Linked DNA regions of Homo sapiens: region 1 is linked to region 2. A link means that fine-mapping ties the variant in region 2 to the expression of a gene that starts in the linked region. Tissue or cell type: whole blood. Region 2 holds a variant in brackets; the other region holds the start of a gene. All regions are shown on one strand. Distances are from middle to middle. Region 1 holds the start of LRRC4 (leucine rich repeat containing 4). Region 2 overlaps SND1 (staphylococcal nuclease and tudor domain containing 1).

The links.
Region 1: it holds the start of LRRC4, and the variant in region 2 is fine-mapped to the expression of LRRC4 in whole blood (INTERVAL, PIP above 0.99).

The regions. Positions count from the first base shown.
Region 1 is chr7:128,029,887-128,032,386 of GRCh38, forward strand. LRRC4 (leucine rich repeat containing 4) reads right to left here and starts at 1,551. Exons shown (of 2, transcript NM_022143.5): 1 at 1,027-1,551; 2 at 1-854. The coding sequence starts at 754. All of the region lies in intron 16 of SND1 (staphylococcal nuclease and tudor domain containing 1), which reads left to right. RefSeq lists a silencer at 1,995-2,114.
Region 2 is chr7:127,997,587-128,000,086 of GRCh38, forward strand. The region is part of intron 16 of SND1 (staphylococcal nuclease and tudor domain containing 1); the gene reads left to right. SND1-IT1 (SND1 intronic transcript 1) reads left to right here. Exons shown (of 1, transcript NR_027330.1): 1 at 1-2,491. Among named protein-coding and RNA genes, the nearest start is that of SND1-IT1, 1.3 kb to the left of the region's middle. The variant A/G (reference allele first, on the strand shown) is at 1,083.

The sequences.
Region 1 (2,500 bases), 32 kb after region 2:
AGTTCATGACCCAGAGCTTCTTGAGGGAGCTCAGGCCATGGAAGGAGCCAGGCCTGATCTCAGGGAAGTGGTTCCCTGACATCTCCAGCTCCTCCAGCCCCACCAGGGGGGTGAGATTGGGCATGTCTTTAATGTTGCACATGCCCAAGTTCAGATACTTGAGGTTGAACAGCCCCTCAAAAGCTCCCTCAGAGATATACTCCAGCTTCTTGAGCTCCCCCAAGTCCAGGCGCATGAGGGAGGGCACCCGGTTGAAGGCGTAAGAGGGGATGCTTTCGATGGGGTTGTTGCGAAGCCAGAGCTCCCGCAGCTTGGACAGGTATTCAAAGGCCCCGCTAGGGATGACTGTCAGCCAGTTGTCGAACAGCTCCAGGGTGTTGAGGCTGGCCAGGCCGTTGAAGGCCCCCACCTCAATCTGCCGGATGGAGTTCCTGCCCAACTGCAGGACCTCCAGGTGGTGGAGGTGGCGGAAGGTGTCGGCCTGGATCATCTGGATGTTGTTCTCCATGAGGTTGAGGTACCGGGTGTTCGAGGGAATACCCTGCGGGACCTCGGAGAGGCCCCGGCGCGTGCACACCACCTTGCTGAACTGGTTACTGCACGAGCAGACGGAGGGGCAGTTCTGGGGCCCGGCTGAGGCGGCAGCAGCGATGGCTGCACACAGAATCCACACTTGCGCCGTGAGGTAGACGAACGGGAGCAGGATGGCATTCCAGGTGTGGTGGTGCACAGTTACCTGCCACAAGAGCTTCATGGTGTGGCACGTTCATAATTCACCATCGCCTGGGATTTTGGCTCGGAAAGGAGAACCAGCCCTACCCCGGCTTAAGTGAGCTAGGAGCTCCTCTTTCCATCTGGAGAAGGAGGTGGGGAGGGGGCGATTAGAGAGACGGAGCGGATCGGCCGAAAAAAATCCTGCCAAACTCGAGCGGCCCCTGGTCTCCCAACCCACCCTCAAGGCAAGCCCTCCGAAAGCTACGACTCTCCCACACTGCAACCGTCCCCACCCAGTTCGCCGTCACCTACCTCGGAAGGAAGGCAGGAAAGCACTGGCGTGGTGTCCTTAAGCTTTCTCCACGGGAGCTGGGCACCTCGTTCCCATTCCGACTTCTTAGTTTTAATTAACAAAAGGGGGAAGTGGTGGGGGCGGGGAGGGCAGAGGGGAGGGGAGGGGAGGGGAGGGAAGGGGTGGGGGAGACAAAATGGCCTCTAGTAAATCCGGAGCCGGAGCCGGCGAAGCCGCGGAGTTGAGGCGCGCCTGGGAGAGCCAAGGCCCGGCGGGCTATGCAGGTGCATGCCCCCCCCTCCGCCCAAGGAGCGGCGCCACCAGCGCTTCCCGGCTTTGTCCTTGGACCCTGGCACCGGCTCGCTCCAGCCGCGGGGGAAGGCGCTTCATCGCCAAAGTGCGCTCCGGCGGCCCCGGCCCGCTCTGCGGGCCGCCGCCGGAGGGAGTGCGGGGGCGCCCCGAAGCCGCCCAGGCCGCACTCGCTGGATGCTGCGCTCCCTCTCCCGGCGTCGGCCGCTCCGGGCCGGCGGCAGCTGATTGCGGTCGTGAGCTCGCGGAGCGGCGAGAGTTAAGAGGAGGTGTTCGCGGCGCCTTCGCCCTCCCCAGACACACACCCCCTTTCTCCTCGCCTCTTCTCGGAGGGTGGAAGAGACAAAAACGGGGGGTCAGTTCTCCAGTCCGCCGGCTGCCGGCACGCGGGGCGGCGCTCCGTCCGGCCCCCGAGGACCAGCGGCGTGGCGGCTGCGCTCGGACCCGGTCCGCCGGCCGGAGGAGCGCGCGGCGCCCGCGGTCGCGCCCGCACCGCAGGCCCCTTCAGAGAGTCCGGGGGCGGGCGCGGGTCCGGCGGCGGCGGCGGCCGCAGCCCCCGGCGGCGCGCAACCGCCCGTCGCCGCCCGCCGCTGCCCGGCCCCCGGCGCGCCGCCGGCTCCGGCTTTGTGCGGAGGGAGCGAGTTCGCGGCTTCGGCTCCCGGCGCCCTCAGTGGCCGCGCCGCCAGCGGACTGCTGCAGCGGCGTGAGCAGCGGGGGTCGCGGCTGCGGGAAACGCTCCGGAGCCCAGGAACATAGTCCCCGCTGGCTAGCGGCGGCAGCAGCAGCAGCGGGGCCCCTGCGCGCGGCGCCCACCGTCTCCTCCTCGCGCCGGGCTCGCGGTGTTGCAGGCGGCAGCCACGCAGACTGCTCTCTCATCCTTTTGTCCTTCAGTCAGAACGTGAATGTACTGCTGACGCATACTGTTCTGGGAGAAGATTAGCGTGATGCAGTGCTCTTATGTATTAGCGCCGCTCCCCCTCCGTCGCCTGCCTCGCGGGGTTAACGCCGGCGCCTTCCAGCGCCGCGCCGGCCGGCGCCGCGCAGCCCCGCGCCTCCGGCCGCCCGTCTTCCTCTTTCCTCCTTCCTTCCTCCTCTCTTCCTCTCTCCCCCTCCCCCCTCCCCCCTCCCCGGGCCGCTTCCTCCCCGCCCCCTCTAGACGAGCGGAGCGGGGCCAGGGCGAGCGGG
Region 2 (2,500 bases):
AAATCTGACTGTGTAGGTGCATTTGTTTAAAAAATATAACTCCCCATTGCCTCTGGGATAAAGTCTTATCTCAGTTTACATATATTCTTGATAACCTCTCCAACTTTATGTCTCACCACCCCCACTCACTTCGTAATTCGTGCCTTATCAGAATGGACCTGTTATACTGGCAGTTCACCATATATACCATTACATTTTGTTTCTCCCATCTCTCAGGTAGACTTACACTTTCGGCCCAGCACATCAGTCATCGCCCTTGCTTGCTTTCCTATTCACTCCTGTTCTGGAAGGTGCACCACCTTTTCTTGGAAGGCTTCCCTTGCTCTCCCAGGCTAGATGAGATGTCCTTCCATCAGTTCCCACAGCACCCTGTGCATGTATCTGTTGTGCACTTACCAATAGTATACAAGGGATCTATGACCCAAGTCTCTCCCCACTAGCTTGTAAGCTCCTCACAGACAGGAACCATGTTTTGTCTTTGTACTCCAGTGCCTAGTATATAAGAGATACTCAATAAATAAATATTTGTCAAATCAACTAATTGATTCCTTGTGACCTAATTCTAGAGAATGGGAAGAAGGCCTGTTATTTTGTTGTCCTTTATGGTTCTTTAGGAAAGCTCTCCAAGCTTGGCATTTGTCAGGGTGGGAGGAAAACTGTTGAAGTATTAAGACTGGACACATGGCTGCTAATTCATCAGCTTATCATTGAAAAAGTCCATAGCCAAAACCTGACTGTGCACTTACTATAGGACCCTGACCTGCCTGGGTCTCCCTGTCTCTCCAGCCAGTATATTTAAAGGTAATGAGATAATGATGAGTGTTTTGAAAAATGTTTAGTGTTCAAATAGAAACCATTCGTGTCCCTTCACTCTCTGAACATAGTCTGCAAATCTCTCCCTCTCTGGTATGTTTCTGTTTTGTGGATTAGACTGCTAAATAAGCGAAGAGTTAATTTTGAAGTTCAGGTCAACAAATTCCTGTTTGGAGACGGGCTGTTCCTGAATACCAGGTTGTTATCTGTCTATTACAGCCCCTTCACTTCTGGGCTCCTGGCCCTTTGCGAAGTACTTCAGAAAGCCT[A/G]GAGAGAAGAGAGGGCCCTCAAATCCCATTCCAGCCCCTAAATGAAAGTGGCATCACAAGGAGAAAAGTGGAGGTAGAAATGTACCATGGGGGACGTTGCCCCATTGCCTTTCTTCCCCTGACTACTGGGCTTCCTCTATCAGCTTTTAACGCCTGGAAGTAGCTGAGTCTCCAGTCACTGGTGGCCTTCCCCAAGTGAGCTCAGCAGCATGTGCTAATAGGTGCCAATACTGTGCTGGCTCCAGTGGGATTCCTCTCTGCAAAGCTGCTGGCTTAGCTTGACTGTTTCCCTATTCCTCTCCTTAGAACTTTCATAGCCAGTCAAGCATAGAATTGCATCCATTCTTCTGAAATAGGTACTGTGCCTAATTTTTCATTGGCTTGGCCAAGATTCTGTTACCTGTAATTATGTCATATGGGCTGACTGGTGTAGGTTTGGTAGGCCTCACTGCTCTCCAGAGGCTAGTGTTCCTATCCCAGGATGGCTGTTGGGATTAGGAGTGGAATGAGGAATAGTTTAGGACCACAAGAGATTTGGCCTCCTTGGAACATGTAGGAAGGCCTCAAGGATGTAATTCTAGCCCAGGGAAGAAAATCCTTTTCAGCAGACGCTTCCCTTCCCTTCCCCTAGGGAATGTGTCCCTACTATAGTAAACTCTTCCTTAAGAGAGTTTTATGTTTTCTCTGTCAGATCAATTTGTTTTTCTTAATGTTGTTCCTATCAAAAAAAAAAAAAAGGAAGAAATACAGTCCTCAGACCTGACAGTTTCATTTTTCCCCCCAAGTAGAAGCAATAGAAACCTTAGCAGTTCCAAGACTCCTGGCACTCACTTTTCCTCTCCATCTTTAGGTCTAACCCAGCTCAGCCCAGAGTAAAGACATAAAAGCCTCACATGTGATTTCCTCTTGCATTTTTTCTGCTAGAAGGGTCCACAGTACTTACTTTATGCCTCATCTCAATTGAAGCTGGATGATGAGGATAGTGGGCAGTGATTGCAATTGGGGAATGCATGTACTGGATCACATAAGGTCATGAAAGTCCTTGAAACAGAGCCTTGCCAAGCAGAACCCTTGCCACTCATGGTATTCGATACAGTCTACCCATCTGACATGAAATGATATTCTTAATGAGCCATTCCTATGGAAGATAGCTATTGCCAGGCACATTCAGTCTCCTGGTCTCCCTCTCATAGCTATGTAGGGCCTATGACCTAGAATAAATGGAAAAATGTTATCAGGAGGAAGAGACTGCTGGACTCCCCTGAGAGGTAGGGTTTGTGCTAGGAGAGCTGGGTGCCATTTATTTCATTTTGATATATCAGGTGCTCCTAGTAACAATTCCTAGTTTCTCTTACCTCTGTAATCATCCTGAATAGTCACTGCTTCTTGAGCTTTGGTGAGTGTTCTCTAAAAAAAAA